Regions from separate parts of the Homo sapiens genome. Here regions 2, 3 and 4 are each linked to region 1. Evidence: fine-mapped QTL for protein levels in blood plasma. Region 1 holds a variant in brackets. A gene starts in each other region. All regions are shown on their reverse strands.

Region 1 (5,121 bases):
TTCTTGTACGTATGTGTAGCTTTTTATAATTGAGCAAGTATCCCCACAGGTGAGAATCTTAAAAGTAGGATTGCTAGATCTAAAAGTGTACACAGTTTAAATTTCGATATGGCAGATTAAAAAGTTTAACCTTGGCTGGGTGCAGTGGGTCACACCTGTAATCCCAGCACTTTGAGAAGCCGAGGTTGGTGGATCGCCTGAGGTCAGGAGTTCAAGACCAGCCTGGTCAACATGGTGAAACCCCGGCTCTACTAAAAATACAAAAAATAGCCCGGCGTGGTGGTGCATGCCTATAGTCTCAGCTATTCGGGAGACTGAGGCAGGAGAATCGCTTGAACCTGGGAGGTGGAGGTTGCCGTGAGCCTAGATGGTGCCACTGTACTCCAGCCTGGGTGATGGAGCAAGACTCTGTCTCAAAAAAAAAAAAAAAAAGTTTAACCTTAAAATATACCTGTAAACCACTGATTGCATTCATCCACTGTATAGGCTATAAGAAATAAAAACAGAGAGGGCAGAGTCCCTGTTCTTGAAAATAAGATTCATATACATGGAAAGTCAAATAAAATGCAAATTAGTATAGGATTAAATGCTAATGAGTAGTCTGAAGAATAAGTCTTTACAGTGGGTTGAAGGGCTGCAGAAGCCTTCATAGATTTATATATATAACCAGGTCTGTAAGACTTGTTAAGTGCTGTGGACCAGGTTCCTGTGGACCAGGGTGGAAGGTGGGAGGAGGAAGAGGATTAGGAAAAATTGTGGTGAAACTGCCCTCTAGTGGCCAATAATTTAAGTGACCCATTTACAGGCAGGTCTAAAAATGTAGGATTAACCACATAACAAAAATATGGTTATTAACTTTATGGGAAGATTCTCGGAAGGTCTGATCACAGGGATCCTTTATATGACAAGCTTGGCTTATATCTAAAATTTTATTTGTTTCAAAAATTAGGCATTGTCAAGAACCCATGTATTATATAAAACTATACATATATCAACTATAGCTTACATCAGTTGAGAGTAGTGGTATATATAATCTAAAAGTAACTTATATTTTATTCCTTTTTGTAAAACACTGCAAATGTACCTTCCTAATTATTGTTTACCTGGGTTAGTGTTAAAATTACTTCACTTTTCCAGCACATACCTGAGCTTGGGGGCATTGAACGCTCTGGGTGTAAAGATAAATCAGATGTTATGTTTCAAAAATGGGCATTGACAATCAGAGGATGATCAGAGTGGCCTTTTTCTGAGATTTGGGTACAAGTTATGTTCTGAAGATTCCTTCCTTTCTGTGGCATAAGAGCATTCAGTAATGAAATTAGTCGTAACAAACTAGAATTAGGATCCGGCGTCTACTTAAGTAAGTAGTGCTCTCACTGTCTCTGTATTTCAGAAACTTCTCATGGGGCTGCCTTCCATCAGCTCAGGAGCCTCAGCAGAGCAGTAACTTAGTGTATAGTGAGCAGTGTTGTATCAAGCACCTGTGAGATAGACAAAGAAACCTGAGACATGGTCCCAGCCCCAGGTGCTTGTAGTCTAGGTGGGAAAATACAGCAGGCCCACAAGACCATCCAGTTTGGTGTATGATGACCAAGAGCCAAACGAGGTCAGACAGCAACTGCAGCAGAAGTCTCTGCTGGTGGAGTCAGGGAAGGGCCTGCAGAGATCATGGGCCCGGAGCTGCATCTGGAAAGATGACTAGACTCTGACAAAACAGAGTGAAGCCGAAGGCCAGGCAAATTTAGTAAATGAGTAATTCCATAAATTGGGAAAGAGAGGGAGAATAAAGTACCATTTGATGCTGTTTTCTTAAGTGTAGATTTTCCCTATTAATTGACACTGGGTATTAAGGGATAAGATAAGCACAGGGCTAAGCATAGTGTCTGACCCATGATACAACCTCCACAAATTTTAGCTATTATTATTATTTCTAGATTTCATCAGTAGTTTTCAAAATTAAATAAGAAACTGTCATATCCTGCTCTGACCAAAATACTGTCAGCCAGTTTGATCACCCGTACCTCATGTGCCAGCTTTGGTTCAGAATAACTTTTGTCAGTTTCCACAAATCAAATCCGACCTCGGAGTATGAAGATTTGCCACCACTGAAAATATTTAAAGACCAGGCATGGTGGCTCACATCTGTAATTTCAGCACTTTGGGAAGCCGAGGCGGGTGGATCACTTGAGGTCGGGAGTTCGAGACCAGCCTGGCCAACATGGTGAGAGCTCGTCTCTACTAAAAATACAAAAATTAGCCAGATGTGGTGGCACATGCCTGTAATCTCCGCTACTCGGGAGGCTGAGACATGAGAATCACTTGAAACTAGGAAGCAGAAGTTGCAGTGAGCTGAGATCACATCACTGCACTCCAGCCTGGGTGACAGGGCAAGACTCTGTTTCAAAAAAGAAGAAAATGTTTTAAAAACTTGCAGCAGGTTTTGAAGGCAATTCTGAAAGATGGGTCCTAAAATGTTTTAAGCAGCAGGGTAGGTGGGAGGTACGCTAAACACATTGACAAAGCCAGCTTCTAGGGGAAGTCCTTACTATTCAAGATATGTTTTCCACATTGTACCAGAACTAAGCATGCACTGCCCTACTTCTCCTTTATGATTTATGTGCCAGAATAGGGATTGGGGTGAGCATCCTTAGCTGCGGTTTTCAGAACTTATAGATGTGAGAAAGCGGTCTGTAAACAAAGGGAAAGTGGCATTTGAGTTCAAGCCAGGGGATCTGGCCAGTGTCTTATTCATCTTTATATTTCTAGAGCATAGCATGATGCCTGGACTACCATAGGAACTCAATAGATGTTATGAATGAGCCATGAATTCTGTCTTGTGTCCCTTACAGAACCA[AG/G]TCGTCATTGCTGCTGGAAGGAGTTCTTTGGGAGCCCGACTCTCCGGGGCACTTCACGTCTATAGCCTTGGCTCAGATTGAAGATTTCACTGCATTTCCCCACTCTGCCCACCTCTCTCATGCTGAATCACATCCATGGTGAGCATTTTGATGGACAAAGTGGCACATCCAGTGGAGCGGTGGTAGATCCTGATAGACATGGGGCTCCTGGGAGTAGAGAGACACACTAACAGCCACACCCTCTGGAAATCTGATACAGTAAATATATGACTGCACCAGAAATATGTGAAATAGCAGACATTCTGCTTACTCATGTCTCCTTCCACAGTTTACTTCCTCGCTCCCTTTGCATCTAAACCTTTCTTCTTTCCCAACTTATTGCCTGTAGTCAGACCTGCTGTACAACCTATTTCCTCTTCCTCTTGAATGTCTTTCCAATGGCTGGAAAGGTCCCTCTGTGGTTATCTGTTAGAACAGTCTCTGTACACAATTCCTCCTAAAAACATCCTTTTTTAAAAAAAGAATTGTTCAGCCATAAAGAAAGAACAAGATCATGCCCTTTGCAGGGACATGGATGGAGCTGGAGGCCATTATCCTTCATAAACTATTGCAGGAACAGAAAACCAAACACTCCATATTCTCACTTGTAAGTGGGAGCTAAATGAGAACACGTGGACACATAGAGGGAAACAACACACACTGGGGCCTATGAGAGGGCGGAAGGTGGGAGGAGGGAGAGATCAGGAAAAATAACTAATGGATACTTAGGGTGATGAAATAATCTGTGTAACAAACCCCCATGACACACCTTTATGTATGTAACAAACCAGCACTTCCTGCGCATGTACCCCTGAACTTAAAAGTTAAAAAAAAGTTGAACTTAAAAATAACAGATTGGCCCATGCCAATCAAAGTATAATAGAAAGCATAGTATACAGAAAAAAAAAAAAAAAAGAAACTGAGGGAGGAAAAATAGTACAGAGTAAAGCATGGGGGTGAGGGATAACCTCACATTCCAAATCACTTGTGACTTAGTCCTTTTTAACTTTTATTTTAGGTTCAGTGGTACATGTGAAGGTTTTATCTTTTCTGTTCCTCCCACCTTCCCCACTCAAGTAGACCCCAGTGTGTGTTGTTTTGTGTTCATAAGTTCTTTTAACTTAGCACCCACTTGTGAGAACATGCTATACTTGGTATTTGGTTTTCTGTTCCTGGTCGTGTGTTAGTTTGCTAAGGATGATAGTCCTTTTTTTTTTTTTTTTTTTTTGAGACGGAGTCTTGCTCTGTTGCCCAGGCTGGAGTGCAGTGATGTGATCTCAGCTCACTGCAACCTCCGCCTCCCAGGTTCAAGTGATTCTCCTGTCTCAGCCTCCCAGGCAGCTGGGACTACAGGTGCACAATACTACGCCCGGCTAATTTTTGTATTTTTAGTAGAGACAGGGTTTCACCATGTTGGCCAGGCTGGTCTCGAACTCCTGATCTCAGGTGATCCACCCACCTTGACCTCCCAAAGTGCTGGGATTACATGTGTGAGCCACAGGACCTGGCCGATAATCCTTTCTTAATGAGGATTAATACCTTTTCAATGTTTATATAGTGAAGGACAAATATAAAAACCAAGACTATCACCCTTCTGTGCCCTCCAATACTTTTGTAGAGTTGGCTGTTCTAACACCTAAAGAGCCTAGCGACACTGCTAGTTTTAAGCCATCTCATGAGGGACCTTTGTCGCATTAGGTTACAACTTGTGCCAAAAGAACTAGAGGGAAAAGATGTGGCCTGAGCCACACGCTACTGTAAGGGCCGGAGAGGAAAGCAGGCCTTGGCCTCGCTTGTTCCTGGGCTGTTTTTCGTAGGATGGATTTCATTTGTCAGTCCTGCAGCGTGGCACACTTAAGGGAATGGAATGTATCATAGGGTTTCAGTTTCAGTAAACATTAGCGGGCATTATCTGTAAACAGTAACTAGTTTATTTTGTGTTAAATTGGGAAGAACCTCTTTCTTCTGCCACGGGTGAGATGATACTAAAAGCAGGAGAAAATAACAAATGAGAAGAGCCCTTCTCTTCTCAGCTTCTCTCAAGAGTAGAGACTGGTGAAAAGGGGACAGGAAGAGGAATCCAGCTGAAGAGTGGAAAGTTAACAAGAACATCAAGAGGTACATCCCTAGAGAGCATCTCTGGGTCACTCCCAGGATGACCTCATTTTTCTGGAAGAGGTACATGTGCTAGCTGCATAGTAACCTATGGCACAGCAAAAGCACAAGG
Region 2 (5,133 bases), not on the chromosome of region 1:
CTATGGGCAGTCCTGGAGTTTTGAGTGAAAACCCTGCATGATCCTCTCAGGGGACAGGCGAGGTGAACAAAGGAGGGATGGTGACCAGCTGACCAGGACCTGAGGCATTAGCGTCTGCCTCGTCCACATGCTGTGCAAGCTCAGCGAGGCCAAGGGACTGGGCTGAGGTCACACAGCTGGGCAGGGCCCTCATGACCGGCATGCTGGTCGTGGAGGCTGAGCCCCACATTTTGGGTGTGGGTGTGGGTGGGAGGTGAGACAGCCCCTGGCCTCACTGTAGAGGGGTGGTGGGCTGGGGAAGCTGGCAAAGAATGTGCCCCACATGGTGGGTGTGAGGTGGGGAACGATTCGGGCAGATGCCCGTGTGGCCCTGCTGACCCAGTCCAGGCAGGGTGTGACAGGTCTGTGTGGCCCTGAGGGCACAGCTGTCTGCAGTCTCCAGCTCACTCCTGATCCCCAGGGCCACGTGTCCAGAAAGCCTGGGAGCTTGCATCAGCTGGGCACAGATGGCCTGTCCTCCCAGCACCCCTGATGGGGCTTCCTAGGAACTGACTGGTGTAGACTCCGGGCAGCAGACGGCCAGGCTCTGCCCACAGGGTCCCTGGCTCCTCCCACAAGGTGACCCGATAGAACTGGTTGTGCCCCTTGACCAGGGGCTCCAGCCCTTGTCAAGCCCTCCCTGCTAGCCCCTCACCAGCCGTCAGCTGCTCCCCTTCTTGCCCGTTGGGCCCTGGGGGGTGATGGCTCCGTGGTCGCCTGCCCAAAGAGTACACCACTCCCCATGCTACCCCTCACCCGGCTACACCCTGAAAAATGTGGCTTACCAAACCCTCCCACATGCGCAGCCTGAGAAGTGGGCTGTGCCTTGCTGGTAGCAGACCCACCGGCTGCCTAGCCCTGCTCAACTCTGCCTCTGCACCCCCATAACTCCCTATCAGCGCTGGCCGACGCCTAACCATCCCAGCTAGCACCCAGGAGTGGGCCCAGCTTCCAGTGGGGAGGGTGCTGGCCAACGTGCTGACCGAGGTGGCGGACACAGGAAACCAGCCCATCCCCCAGCGCTCCCTCTGCAGGCCTCAGCCCTGCTCCCATGCAGAGACCTGTGGGGAGGTGGAGGCCCAGGTCCCAGCGCAGAGCAACCGGGAACAGCCAGGTTGGTGGCTGGAGAGGGTGCTGGTGCCAGAAGCCTCCAGGGCCACCCCTGCTCCCCATTTCACCCCATGCCCATCCCATGCCCCAGAATGGTCACTTCGGCTGCGGCAGGAGGGGTGGGAGGGGCTTTAAACCTATGAGATAGGGTGTGGGGTCACAATCTTCAGCTATAGTGGGCTGCTCTGGGTCACTGGTAATTGAAGAGACGCCTGCGGAGTAAGCAAGCAAGTGTCCTCTCAAGGCCTTTCTGCAAGCACAGAGCAGCCCGAGACTGGAGCCTGGTCCACCCCAGCGCTGTCCTCAGACTGATGGTCAGTGCCACGTGACTCATCTAGGGTCTGATACATCCCTGTGGAGAGAGCTCAGTTCCTAGCCTGGGGGCTGCTGTGTGCAGGGACCCTGGAGAAGAATGCTTGTCTGGGGGTCAGGCCTCAGCCTCCCACTGGCTCTGTGAGCTTCGCCTGAGGTTCCCTATCTGTGCAATGGGTGATGACGTCTTGGTGTGGCTCTGGGAGGACCTGTTGAGCCACCTCAGGGGCTGAGCTGGTGGCACTCGGCAGCCAGCACCCTCTGGGGAGGTGGCAGTGTGTGCACAGCCCACCCCTTCAGGAGGCCAGGGGACAGAGTGGCTGGGGGTGTCTGGGCCCCACCTCACCTTCTGTGTGGCTGGGAATGGCATGCACTCCACAATGCCCTCATAAGCCTAGGCTGGGACAAGGGTGATAGGGATAAAGCAGGCCAAAGTGATGAGGGCCACAGAGCGGCAGCCAGAGGCATGTGGGCAGTGCAGCCTCCACACCAGGCAGAGGGCCCACCCAGCATGGCTCCACCCTGCGAAGCTGCCTGCCACTGGGATCAGATGGGAGCACCAGGGCTCTGGGAGGTCCTCACTTCCTCTGCACAAGGCAGGCAGGTCACCGGCCCTGCGCCCTGCTCATCTCCCTCAGGGCCACCTCCATGGCCAGGGGCAGGCAGAGGGCACAGGGGTGCCCAGTCACCAGGTCTCTCTGCTTCATATCAGTGGACCTGGGCTCTGAGGGGGGCCATCAAGGCATCAGGCTGGCCCACTCCGTCCTTGAGTCAGGGTCCTACAGACTGACACCAGGTGGGCCTGCAAGACCCTCATCTGCATGGTCCTCTCATGCAGGGTGGGCCTGGGGAGGACCCAGCCCGGCTGAGCTGACTCCCAGCACTTCTCCAGGTGCAGGGGCAGCCTGGCAGTTGTCTGAAGACCCCGGGATGCACTTAGGAGCTCATCGGTGAGGCCCGGTAGGTGCCCCGAGCAGAAGATTGAGAAGGGACACCTGCACCCCTGTGTGGTGTGTGCAGGGGCGTCACTGGATTCTCTGGCCCCATGCCTCACACCGCCCGTGGGGGGCTGGCTTGGTAGAGTGGGGGGATACTAAGCAGGTGACCTCGGAGAGCGTCTTCTGGGTTTGGAGCCCCCATTCCGCAGAAGGGAAGAGGTGGGGGACCCCTGCAGGGTTACGGGTAACATCAGGCCTAGGTCCCTTCTCTAGGATGGTGCAGAGAGGGCCACAAAGGCCCAGGAGGGCCCCCAGAACTCTCTTAAGCCCTGAGCCTGTTTCTTACTGAAAAATGGGGGCGATCGTGCTGCAGCAAGGGGCTTCTGTGCAGGGGGCGGGGGATTCATGGGTTTCGTGAGGCCAGGAAGGGAGTGGGTCAGGCAGAGGCCATTCCTAGGCCTCGGGACAAAGCCCTTGCCCGCTTGGGGACCGGGCCAGCCTAGGCCGCCACACCCTCGGGCCCGCGTCCCCGGCCGGCTCCGGCCCGGGCCGCCATCCCCTCCGCCGCCTGCAGGGGCCGCCGCCTCTTCAGGAATGCGCCGCCTTTGTCTGGGACCGCGCGGCGCCGGTGCACCGGGCGGGCTGAGCGCCTCCTGCGGCCCGGCCTGCGCGCCCCGGCCCGCCGCGCCGCCCACGCCCCAACCCCCGCGCCGCCGCCGCCCTCGCCCTGTGCGCCCTGCGCGCCCTGCGCACCCGCGGCCCGAGCCCAGCCAGAGCCGGGCGGAGCGGAGCGCGCCGAGCCTCGTCCCGCGGCCGGGCCGGGGCCGGGCCGTAGCGGCGGCGCCTGGATGCGGACCCGGCCGCGGGGAGACGGGCGCCCGCCCCGAAACGACTTTCAGTCCCCGACGCGCCCCGCCCAACCCCTACGATGAAGAGGGCGTCCGCTGGAGGTGAGTGTCCGCGCTGCACCCGAGCCCGGCCGGCGGCGGGGCGCGGAGGGGGGCGGCTCGCCCCCTCCCCGGAGCCGCAGGGCCCGTCCCGGGCTGCCGAGGCGAGGGAAGCGTAGCCGGGCGGCAGGGAAAGCCACCGCAGTGCCGCGCCAGGCTGGGGCCGCTGGCGCCCCGGCCCCGGGAGGGCGGAGCCGGAGGCGGCAGGAAAAGTTGCCGCTTCCCGGGAAAGTTGACGGCTTCGGCAGGGCCGAGGGTGGCGGTCCGAGGGTCCCCGATGCTGGGCCAAGTCGAGGGCGGGGGCCGTGGGCTGGAAGGGCGGGGCCCGGCCTCGGAGCGCCCCGGCCACCAAGGGGTTAACGAGCGGGTTTTTGCAGAAACGTGGGTACCGAGGGTGGGTGGGGGTGTCGGGCCGCCTCCACCCCAGCCTCACGGTCTGGGCTCAGAACCTCCCGTTTCTCCGAGGTCAGTCCACAGTGGGATGAATGGGGGCGTTGGCGGCAGTAGAGGGCGTGGGGGACAGGGTTGTCCCAGCGCTGCCTCCAGGGCGGGCGGTGAGAGGAGGCAGCAACGCCCGCCATCTGCAGCCCGAGGGACATTGAGAGGCTTGGCTGGGGGAATCAGGGGCGGTGGGGCAATCAGCAACCCCTCCCTAGCAGCCCTCGTGGGACTCCCCCGCCCCACCGGCTGTGAGGTCCCGCGGTGCGGGCAAGGGAGGGTGGGCTCCATGTGAGTTGGGCATGCCCCGCCTGGAGGGTGCTCCCCAGGTGCCCACCCAGGCTGCCCTGCTGATGTCCATGGTGCCGCAGGCTGCACACACGTTTCCTTGCACGTGCACTTGTCTACACGGACTGCACACTTGCACACCTCTGGTGCACATGCAAGCCAACGCCGCCCCAGTGTGCACATGCACAAACACTGGGTGCACACACGGACTCTGAGGGTGCATATCTGTGTCCTCGCCCCCGCCTGCACACCCACGGCCACACATGCATGCACGCGGCATGCCTGCTGTGGTCTCCACGGGTGGCACATGCTGGGGCCCCTTTCGCAATAACCACTCCCGCACCCACATGCTCGTCTGTTGAGTGGGGAGGCCAGGCCCACAGACAGGGGCAAGACATCCTGGGCCCCACCTCTGCCTGCCTGCCTCCGTGTCCTGGGGGTCCCCGCCTCGGGCTTGTGTGCGTGTGTGTAACTTGGTATGCATCTGCACGTGTGTCTGTGCGCGTGATCATGTGTGCCTGCGGGCACATAGGCATGTCTCTTTGCCTCCAGGGTGTGGGTGCCCCTTGTGTGCCTAGACAGGCTGTGGCCTAATCTGGAGCAGAGGCCCTGGAATGTGTGTTGGGGGCTCGTTGAATACCGCAAAGCCCAGGGTGTGAGGGGCAGGGTCTCCCAGCCACTCCCTACCCACCAGGGCTGAGGCAGATAGATGATGGTGGGCTGGAACCTGTCTGGGCAGGGAAGACCCATTTCAGGCCATGAGGTCAACACTGTGACCAACAGGCCAGACCCTGGGCACCCTTGGTGGCCGCTGCAGCTTGGCTGACTGGAGCACGTGACCCAGCGTGACTGCAGAGGCCCCGCCTCCAGTGCCTCAGTTTCTCCATGGTGAGGACCTTCTTGGTGAGGGGTTCTGTGGTGGGCTCCCCTACCTCCGGTGTTGTGTAGGGTGCTGAGCAGATGGATGCCATGCTGCATGATGGGCAAGGGTGGCCCACTAGCACTGTGGCAAGGGCCCTGGGCTGGGGCTTGGATTGGCAGGCCACACCTCCTGCTCCCCT
Region 3 (5,144 bases), not on the chromosome of region 1:
CTCTCAAACTCTCTCTCTCTACCCCCATCCCCCATATATGTATTGTTTCTGCCTAATACGGTCCAGGACCAGATGGCTTCATTGGTAAATTCTACCAAACATTTAAAGAATTAACAATCCTTCTCAAACACTTCCACAAATAGAAGAGGGGCATATTTCCTAACTCATGCTATGAGGCTAACATTACCCTGATATTAAAACCAGATAAAGACATCACAAGAGGGCTGGGCATGGTGGCTCACACTTGGGGAGAAACACTTTGGGAGGCCAAGGCGGGAGGATCACTTGAGGCCAGGAGTTCAAGACCAGCCTGGGCGACACAGTCAGATGTAGTCTCTACAAAAAAATTTAAAAATTACCCAGGCGTGGTGGCATGCACCTGTAGTCCTGGCTACTCAGAAGGTTGAGGCCAGATGACCACTTGAGCCCCAGGAAGTCGAGGTTGTGGTGAGCTGTGTTCATGCCACTGTATTCCAGCCTGCTGGGTGATGGAGCAAGACTATGTGTCCAAAAAAAAAAAAAAACAAAACAAAACAAGGAAAGAAAATTACAGTCAAATATGCTCTATACATATTGATGCAAAATTCCTCAAAAAAATACTCGCAAGCCAAAACCAACAGTTTATTAAAAGGATTAGACATCATGACCAAGTGAGATTTATCCAAAGAATGCAAGGGTGGTTGCACAGCATTGTGAATGTAATAAAAGGAAATTGAATTGTACACTTAAAAATTGTTGACCAGGCATGGTGGCTCACACCTGTAATCCCAATACATTGGGAGGATGAGGCAGGAGGATTGCTTGAGCTCAGGAGTTCCACACCAGCCTGGACAACATAGGGAGACCCAATCTCTAAAAAAAAAAAAATTATTTTTAATTTAAAAATTAGTTGGGCGTGGTGGCATGTGCCTGTGGTCCCAGCTGCTCAGGAGGCTGAGGTGGGAGAATCCCTTAAACCTGAGAGATCAAGGCTGCAGTGAGCTGTGATGGAGCCACTGCATGCCAGCCTGGGCAACAGAGCGAGACCCTGTCTCAAAAAACAAAGCAAACAAAAAAAACAATGCCAGCTGCCCACATTACTGGGTGGAGCTATCTGAACCTTTACTAGTTCAGAGTGGTGCCTGATTCATGAGTCATTTCTTTGCTTGAATAAATGGTTAAATTTAATTTGTCTAAGGTTTTTCTTTTTAATAGCAGTAAACACTGCTCAGGTGCCACAACTGACATCCTTAACTGCAAACCTAAGTCCTTCAGGAGAGGTCATGCCTATCATTAAACTCCATGTGCCTTGCCCACCCCCTGTCCCCTGTCCCTTCAGCTCACCTTCCATATGTTGAGGGGATGAGCCTCCTAAAGTAACCGAATCTGCTTTTTTTTTTTTTTTTTTTTTTTTGAGACAGAGACTTACTCTGTCGCCCAGGCTGGAGTGCAGTGGCATGATCTCGGCTCACTACAACCTCTGTCTCCCGAGTTCAAGCGATTCTCCCACCTCAGCCTCCTGAGGAGCTGGGATTACAGGTACCCGCCATCATGCCCAGCTAATTTTTGTATTTTTGTAGAGACGGGGTTTCACCATGTTGGCCAGGCTGGTCTTGAACTCCTGACCTCAGGTGATCCACCCGCCTCGGCCTCCCAAAGTGGTGGGATTACAGGCATGAGCCACTGCACCCAGCCTGAATCTGCTTCTTAAGCTCACAAACTTCTCTGCTGGTTCCACTTTGGGGAATTACAAGGAATTACATTCCTTGGCTTGGCAAAGACCATTTCCAGACTGGTGCCAACATGTTCCTCCAGTCTATCTCAAAACCCTTCCCTGCATGAACACCAAGTTCTCTGCAGCTAGGCTGAGGGGTTTGCTCTTCTCTTCACATGCTCTGCATACATTGTAGTGGTCTCCAGCCCATTTCCCTTGGCAAACTCCTATGCGGTCATCAAGACTCATTAGGACTGGCGCAGTGGCTCACGCCTGTAATCCCAGCACTTTGGGAGGCCAAGGCGAGCAGATCATGAGGTCAAGAGATTGAGACCATCCTGGCCAACACAGTGAAACCCCGTCTCTACTAAAAATACAAAAATTAGCTGGGCGTGGTGGCGGGCACCTGTAGTCCCAGCTATTCAGGATGCTGAGGCAGGAGAATTGCTTGAACCCGGGAGGCGGAGGTGGCAGTGAGCTGAGATCACGCCACTGCACTCCAGCCTAGCGACAGAGTGAGACTCAGTCTCAAAAAAAAAAAAAAAAAGACTCATTACAAATGACACACTATTGTGGGTCTCCCTTAGTCCTCCCCAGACAGAATGGTTCTACTGTCCTGTGCTTCCGCTGTATCTCTTGCAGATAACAGTGAGAGGCCCTGAATTTCACACCACACCAGGGACAGGATCTTGAGCCATTCCATTTGAAATGTTAAGGGAAATGGTAACTCTCTGAGGTTGGTGGTCTTGGGGCCACCCAAGGAACCTGGCATCCAGGTTACAGGTGTGTGGCCTCGACTGTGTCCCTGGCCTTTGGGTGCCCACTCCCCACCCCCACCACCATGCTCTGAGGGAAGGGCCTGAGCCATTGGCACCAGCTGAGACTGTGAAATAGAAGAGGCAAAGTAGAAGCAAGGGAGGTGGCCACTGTGCCCTGAGAGCAGGAGGGGCAAGCGGGCCACACACAGACCAAGCACACGTCCCCTCAGGTGGCCACGCCTCAAAGGCTGGACTTTGGCCGACTTGGACAGGCAGGTGAGCCAGGCTGTGCCCAGCAAGCCGAAGGTGCCTGGGCTTGCTCATTCAGTCACAGTCACAGCCACCATGCCAGGGAGGACCTGGGAGCTGTGCCTGCTACTGCTGCTGGGGCTGGGACTGGGGTCCCAGGAGGCCCTACCCCCACCCTGTGAGAGGTAGGGGTGTGGGGAAGGCAGCAGGGGAGGATGGCAATAAGAGGGAGGCTGGGATGAGATCTCAAGCTCTGGGGTCGGTACTTCAGAGGGAAAGGAAGAGATTATAAAGGAAGGAAAGAGTAGGGAAGAGAAGAAAATGAGAATTCCTATGTAGCAGGCTCTGTGCTGGGCACTGCACCTGCAGTCCGTTTTTTTTGTTGTTGTTGTTAGAGTCTTGCTCGGTCGTCCAGATGGAGTACAGTGGCACCATCTCCACTCACTGCAGCCTAGACCTCCCGGGTTCGAGAGATTCTCGTGCCTCAGCCTCCTGAGTAGCTGGAATCACAGGCATGCACCACCACGCCCAGCCTGTCATTGATTTTTACCAAAATTTTCCACCGTTGGAAGGGACATTAGGCTTGGCGACTGTGCTGGGAATACAAGCGTGAGCCACCGCCCCCTGTCGGGACCTGCAGTCCTGATACCAGACGCAGCTGCCAGAGCCTGGCCTGAGGTCCAAGAGCCTGCTGGCCAGAGCCCGCCCTCCCTTCCTCTCCTCCTCCAAGCTGCCCCTTGAACTGTGCAGGCCTCTTCTCAGGATTGTTCTAGCAAACTTTCTGCTCCAGCTTCCTAGTCTGGGTGTGAGAGGCAGCCTAAGGGCCTGAAGACAGCACTTGGGCTTGAGCCCTGACCCTCATATTCTCTCTGTGACCCAGGGCAGGTCAAGGCTCTTTCCTGAGCCTGAGTTTCCATCACCAGGGACAGAGATGAGTGACCCTGTCCTGTCTCCTGGACTCAGGCGATGTCCACCCTTCGTTCCACATGGATTTATGGAGCTGTGGCCACATCAGCCACTTTACCAGCTCCTGCAAGAACAATAATAATAGAAGAAAAACAGCTGGGCACGGTGGCTCATGCCTGTAATCCCAGCACTTTGGGAGGCCAAGGTGGGAGCTATCATCTGAGGTCAGGAGTTCGAGACCAGCCTGGCCAACATGGTGAAACCCCATCTCTATGAAAAATACAAAATTAGCCGGGCATGGTGGCGCACGCCTGTAATCCCAGCTACTCGGGAGGCTGAGGCAGGAGAGTCGCTTGAACTTGGGATGTGGAGGTTGCAGTGAGCCAAGATCATGCCATTGCACTCCAGTCGGGGCAACAAGAGCAAAACTCTATCTCAAATAATAATAATAATAATAATAGAAGCAAAACAGTAACAGAAGCACAGTTTGAAGTAGAGAGAAGTTAGGGCCCGCTGGTGTGGGTGAGCAGAGGGTGTGTTAGAGAGGATGGGGAGGGACGGTGTCTCTGAGGAGGTGATGTGTAAGCAGAATTGTGGCAGGAACCATTGCTGAGCTGATCTGGGAGAGGACAGTCCAGGCATGGAAAGGGCCATGCAGAGGCCCTGACGCACTGTTCAGGGATTGGGACGAAGGCCTGTGTGATTGGGGCAGAGTGGGAACAGGTCCGGGGAGAGCGGGGCTCCAGGCAACAAGGTTTGGGCTTGGGTTCCAGTGGTTAGACTAGAGACAGAGACAAGGGGTTCAATAGAGGGTGTGTGTTACAGGGAGAGTTGACAGTGCTTGCCCATGACAATTGTGGAATATAAAGGGGAAAAGTGTACCTGGGATAATTAATAGGTTTTGTCCTGAGCAATTGTAATGAGGACTTCAGAGAGGCTGGGTGGTCCAGTGCTTTGTCAAGCATTAGGCTGTTTGCCAAATGTAGGGGAAGATGACTTTACTGGTGTTCCCTAAGACCAACCTCAGGCCAGTGATTCACTAACACTTCCAAATGGTTATACCATGATTATGGTTTCATTTTTTTTCTTTTTTTGAGACAGAGTCTCGCTCTGTCGCCAGGTTGGAGTGCAGTGGTGCAATCTCGGCTCGCTGCAACCTCCACCTTCTGGGTTCAAGCGATTCTCCTGCCTCAGCCTCCCCAGTAGCTGGGACTACAGGCACCTGCCACCACGCCCAGCTAATTTTTGTATTTTTAGTAGAGACAGAGGTGTTGCCATGTTGGCAAGAATGGTCTCAATCTCTTGTCCTTGTGATCCGCCTGCCTCAGCCTCCCAAAGTGCTGGGATTACAGGCATGAACCACCGTGCCCAGCCTTGATTATGGTTTCTTACAGTGAAAAGATACATGTTAAAGCCATCAAAGGTGAAATATTCTAGGGCCAAGTCCAGGAGAAAATAATCTCAATCTTCCAGTTTTTCCTCTCCCAGTGGATTTATATGGACAGGACTTGATTTTTCCAGCAATAACATGTGACAGC
Region 4 (5,134 bases), not on the chromosome of region 1:
GGTCATGTCTGAGACAAATAGACACGTGTTCTTTGACCTGTTTTAGCAATCGCACTTCCACTTTCAGTTTGTCCCACAGCTGGACGGGCACACAGGCACGAATGCGTGTGCAGGGATCCTGGTGGCAGCCTTGTTTGCTTTAGCAAAAGATTGCGGGTGACCTCCACGGCCGTCAGGAAGGAACTCATTAAATAAATGATGGCCCAGCCATCAGACGAGATCCCAGGCAGGAATTTCAGTGAACTACGTGGAGCTCCAGGAGATTTTTTGAATTTATTTTTGTACAGGAAACACGTGCACATGGTACTAAGTCCAAAAGGTGCAAAAGGAGAGATGATGTGGAGAAGGTCCCTCCCGTCCTCATCTGCGATACAGAGAGCAAAAGAGGCGCTGCGCAGACGGGAGACCCGCACACCTCCGTTTGCGGTTAGAAGGGGCAGAAAGGCTGGTGTGGGGATGAGCTGCCTGTGTTGGGGTGGATGGTGTCCCACCACATTCATGCTCACTTGGAACCTTAGAACGTGGCCTTATTTAGAAATAGGGTCTTTGCAGATGTGATTAGCTAGGGTAAGGGGATGTATACCAGAGAAGTGTGGACCCGAAATTCAGCGACTGGTGTACTAGTGAGAAGAGGAAAGTTTGAATACAGACACACACACACAGGGGAAAGGCCCTGGGGAGACGTGGGGAGAGGTCGGAGTGATGCTGCCGCCAGCCCAGGAATGCCAAGGATTGCCGAGGCCCCAGGAGCCAGAAGAGGTGAGGAGGGAGCCTCTGCTGGAACCTTCCGGGTGGGTGCAGCCCTGCAATGCCCTGGGTTTGGCCTTCTGGCCTCCAGAAGCATGCGGATCCGTTTCTGTGGGTTTAAGCCAGTCTGCAGATCTTTGTTGCAGGCGCCCTGGGACACCCACGCAGGGTCTTTGGAGGATGACGCAGGTTTGGGAGGTGGCTGAGCCCCTAGGGAGGGCCAATTGCTTTTCAATTCTCTAACACCTTTTTTGTGGTACTTGGCTTTTTATTATTTTATTATTGTTTGTTTTTTTGACACAGGGTCTTGCTCTGTCACCCAGGCTGGAGTGCAGTGGTGTGATTGCAGCTCACTGCAGCCTCTACCTCCTGGACTCCAGCAATCCTCCTGCCTTGGCCTCATATATATATATATGTGTGTGTATATATATATATATATACATATATATATGTATATATATATGTATATATATATTATATGCAGTCTTGCTTTGTCACCCAGGCTGGAGTGCAGTGGTGCGATCTCAGCTCACTGCAACTTCCACCTCCTGGGTTCATGCAATTCTCCTGTCTCAGCCTCCCAAGTAGCTGGGATTACAAGCATGCACCATCATGCCTGGCTAATGTTTGTATTTTTAGTAGAGATGGGGTTTCGCCATGTTGGCCAGGCAGGTCTCGAACTCCTGACCTCCAGTGATCCGCCCGCCTCAGCCTCTCAAAGTGCTGGGATTACAGGCGTGGGCCACTGAGCCTGGCCCCATATTTGGCTTTTTAAAAACCTATGTCTGTATTGTCTACAGCCTGGGCAGATCTGTCAGGGAGGTGTTGGGTGGAAAATGGAAAGGATGGAAGGGAGAGGGAGAGGCTGACACAGCCAGCTGGAGGGGCGGGCAGGGGAGGGGAGCCATGGGAGCCAGCGGGGAGCCCGCCACACTCCCCTCCTCCTGAAGCCTTCTGGGGTTGCTGCCCTGGCTGTGGCCACGGGTTTAAGGACCCCCCTGGTCATTTTTCTTTGTCCCGGATCTGTTGCTACCAACGGTGAGGATTCCTAATGGTCCCCTTGGCTCTGTCCTGTGCCTGGAGCAAGGACCTCTCCCCTTTATCCTGCACGACACGGCTCTGTGCCATCTGGTTTCTCAGGCCCTCCCACCCCCAGGCCCCGTCACAGGGCAGTACTCACCGGTGACCAGGGTGAAGTGGCAGGGGCTGGTCATGGTGACAAAGGCGGGGGTCATGTAGCGTGCCTTCACCCCGTCTCGGGCCATGGCGTCCAGGTTGGGGGTGTCCACGTCCTGGTCGTAGTTCCAGCGGAAGCCGTCGAAGGACACCAGGAGCAGCTTGTTCTGGGAGCCCTGACTTTGTACCGGTGCTCCGGCCCCGGGAGCCAGGAGCGTGGCCAGAGCCACAGTGAGGAGGACGGCCGGGCCTCTCATGCTGGGCCTTCCAGATGGACAGGCACACAGGGTGCACAGGGCTGGCTCCTGCCGAGGAGGACAAAGTCCCAGGGTCACCCGGGCTGATCTCATCCCGTGCGCCTTTGGAATGTGGCTGTGCACATCCCCGGGTCGAACCTCGGGAGTGGGCTCCCCAGCCGTGTCAGTGCCACCCCTGGTCCCAGCCTCACGTGCGTGGGGTGGCATCAACTTGAGCATCTGCCTTTATTGCCAGCCGCGCCCTTGGTGCTCCAGGCTCCTCCCCTCCCTCCCCAGAGTGGGGACAGTGACCCAGGGCTCAGAGCACAGCAGGAGCCCATTCCACTGGGAAAGTCGTGCCCTCTCCCTCTCCCATAGCAACAGGTGGTCCCTCTGTCCCAGCTCACCCTGACCCCAGGGGACCCAGGTGAGGCTGGGGTGGGACCCCCTCTCCAGGCCTTTAGTGGTGCATGGGCCTCAGGCCTGCCTGGGTGAGGGCCTGTGGGGTGGGCTTCCCATGGTCAGGGCCAGGACCAAGCCTGGGTCACAGCATGGCCTTGTCCGGGGGGAACCCCAGGCTGGGTGCCTGTTCTCCTCCTGGTCCTGTTAAGGGGCTCCTTGAGCGTGGTGAGCAGACCGGGAACCGGATGGCTCCAGACCAGCGTCCTGTGGGCCTTCCTTCTTGGGATGCTTCCTTCTTGGGATGCTTCCTTCTTGGGAATTTCAGAGGGTGCCTGGGGCTCGGACGTTCTTGCTTGATGACAACAAGGGGTCAGAAGAGGGGGACTCCCTTGTTACCATAGGCACATGAAGGGTGGGAGAGGAACCCCTGGATTCAGTGTGCGGTTCTCCCTCCCTCTCCCCCATCTCTCCTTCCCCTTCTCTTATTTTCTCTCTCTTTCTCTGTCTCTCTCCCTCTTTCCTTCCCTGTATGTCTCTGTCTCAGTTCCTATTAAGCACGTTCTGTGTGCCAGGCATGGTTCTAGGTTCTGGGGACACAGAAGTGAATGAGACAGACAATGTTCCTCGTGGCCTCCATTCGAGTTGGGGACACAGAAGATAAAATGAACAAACAAGAAAAAAAGAGTTTCCCAAAAGAAGGGAAGGCAGGAAGACGTGATGGAGAGGCTGGCGGGGTGGGTGGGCGGCACGCAGTGGTGGCTGGTGGGGTTTCGCTGAGAGGATGGTGGAGGCCAGTGACTCTGGGGGACCATGAGCTAGGGGAGCGGGCATGGGGCAGGTGGCAGGGGTGGCAGGGCCAGTCCCGTAGGGCAGGTGGCGGTGATTCTCATGCCAGGCAGTGGAAGCCAGGCGGGGGTTTTAAGCAAGAGAGTGACATGAACTGATCTAATGCTAAAATATACTCTCCATTTGTGGGTGAAGGATAGACCAGAACGAGGGCAGAATGGACACTGGGTGCTCCCTGGAGAGGTGACTGCCTGTGTCTGAGCAAGAGCTATTGGTGGCCCGGACCAGGGTGGTGGCTGTGGGATGGGGCTGGGTTTGAGGCGGATCCTGGAGGTTTTGCTGGGAGGTGGTGCGCTGGATTGCATGGTGGGAGGTGGTGCACTGGATTGCGCGGTGGGAAGACGGAAGGGCATGGTTGGAGGTATTGTCACAATTTCAATCTGGAGCCACACACCTGCCGACAGTGGCCCCGGCCTTCCTTAAGACCTTTGGCTGGCTGCAGCAAGCAGACGCCGTCTCGAAGCGATGGCCGTGGCACTCAGATGACACCGCAGACGCCGTCCACAGCCTCCCCAGGCCAGCCAGCCTTTCCTAACCCAGGTGGGCAGGGACCACTGGTACGGATCCCCGGCTGCCCCTGCCTGGCCGACTGGAACACACTCTCAAGGAGGACTCCGTGCCAGTGACCCCTCTTCTTCATGCTTCTGTGCACCAAAAGCTGAAAACCAGGATGGAGCGACTGCCCGGTGCCTGCAACCACCGCGTGGGGTGCCTGCTCTGCAGGGCTGGGGCTCAGGGCACCCAGAGGTTTGGCTCCTCCCTGGGGAGCACAGACCTTGGGGAGGGTAAGGATCCCTGTGAGTCAGGGACACAGGTTACGATGCACGCACAGGGGGAATGCAGGCGGCCTCGGGAGAGGAGATCGGGCTTTGCTGGCACCAGCGTTGTGGGAGGCCCACAGGATGCATGGAGCCAGGAGAGAGGGCGGGAAGGCTTCAGGCAGAGGGACCAGGCATGGAGGAAGGGAGGCACCGGGGCTCCCGAGAGGGTCGACCAGGAGGAGCCTGTAGGCCGTGGCGGAATCTGGATTTTCCGCTGTGGCAGAGCTGGTTAGTTGTCCCCTAATATCTGTTCTCCCCTCTTTCCATGATAAGATGGCTGCTAGAAGAAAGACTACATTTCCCAGCATTCCTTGCAGCAAAGCAGGGCCACGTGACCACATTTTGACCAATGGGGCAAAAGGAGAATGTCTTGTAGCAGTCCCAGCCTCTTGCCGGAAGCTAGCTTTGCTTCTCTTCTTTTTTGATTTTTTCCTCCATCTGATGCCTCTGGCTGGCAAGCCACCCTAAGCCGCCTGATGAGGGGCTCCCCGGGGATGGCCGGGGTGCACAGAAGGGGCCTGGTCCCCAGCGTCCTGTGTAGCTCAGCTCCAGGCTGCATCCTCCCGGGGAGAATTCAACACACTCTGCCTCGTTGCAATTTCCATTATTTGGGTTTCCTGTCACTCTCAGCGGGACCTAGTTCAAGCTGATAATAGAATTCCAGGCCTGGGGGGCATTGCTAGGTTTAAGCAGGAGCTGGCTGTGGGGTGGGGCTCGAGAGGGCCGCCAGGGAGGCAGGGCCTGAGTGAGGAGCCGAGGCAGTGGTCCAGGGGCCTGGCCAGGCCTCGGCTGGAGTGCATTTGGGGTGTGCTTGAGGCCGGCGCAGATCTTGGTGGCTCGCAGGTCTGGGGTCCGTGGTTCTGCAGGTTCTCCTGTCGGCCCCTGGGGTTGTGCGAATTCCTGGTC

Direction of the effects. Positions count from the first base shown, and alleles are read on the strand shown. Strength reflects both the effect of a copy and how common the allele is.
For the plasma level of the protein whose gene starts at base 3,102 in region 2, G is the low allele of the variant in region 1 and AG is the other (weak association).
For the plasma level of the protein whose gene starts at base 2,774 in region 3, AG is the high allele of the variant in region 1 and G is the other (weak association).
For the plasma level of the protein whose gene starts at base 2,377 in region 4, AG is the high allele of the variant in region 1 and G is the other (weak association).

Evidence for each region. PIP is the chance, under the fine-mapping model, that this variant and not a neighbour inherited with it causes the effect. The UK Biobank Pharma Proteomics Project read protein levels with antibody pairs (Olink). The fine-mapping took linkage between variants from a reference panel, not from the people measured, so its PIPs are less certain.
Region 2: it holds the start of RTN4R, and the variant in region 1 is fine-mapped to the plasma level of the RTN4R protein (UK Biobank, PIP 0.98).
Region 3: TREH starts here. The variant in region 1 is fine-mapped to the plasma level of the TREH protein (UK Biobank, PIP 0.96).
Region 4: it holds the start of ENPP7, and the variant in region 1 is fine-mapped to the plasma level of the ENPP7 protein (UK Biobank, PIP above 0.99).

Annotation. Positions count from the first base shown.
Region 1 is chr6:24,426,847-24,431,967 of GRCh38, reverse strand. It overlaps GPLD1 (glycosylphosphatidylinositol specific phospholipase D1), which reads left to right. Exons shown (of 25, transcript NM_001503.4): 25 at 2,850-5,121. The coding sequence ends at 2,936. Among named protein-coding and RNA genes, the nearest start is that of MRS2, 26 kb to the right of the region's middle. The variant AG/G (reference allele first, on the strand shown) is at 2,855.
Region 2 is chr22:20,266,287-20,271,419 of GRCh38, reverse strand. RTN4R (reticulon 4 receptor) reads left to right here and starts at 3,102. Exons shown (of 2, transcript NM_023004.6): 1 at 3,102-3,349. The coding sequence starts at 3,328. RefSeq lists silencers at 2,839-2,898, 2,949-3,108, 3,199-3,358 and an enhancer at 3,570-4,258.
Region 3 is chr11:118,677,280-118,682,423 of GRCh38, reverse strand. It overlaps TREH (trehalase), which reads left to right and starts at 2,774. Exons shown (of 15, transcript NM_007180.3): 1 at 2,774-2,885. The coding sequence starts at 2,797. RefSeq lists enhancers at 2,223-2,882, 2,883-3,544.
Region 4 is chr17:79,728,186-79,733,319 of GRCh38, reverse strand. It overlaps ENPP7 (ectonucleotide pyrophosphatase/phosphodiesterase 7), which reads right to left and starts at 2,377. Exons shown (of 6, transcript NM_178543.5): 1 at 1,928-2,377. The coding sequence starts at 2,180. RefSeq lists enhancers at 239-358, 409-458, 3,578-4,537, 4,419-4,713, 4,620-4,739 and 1 more.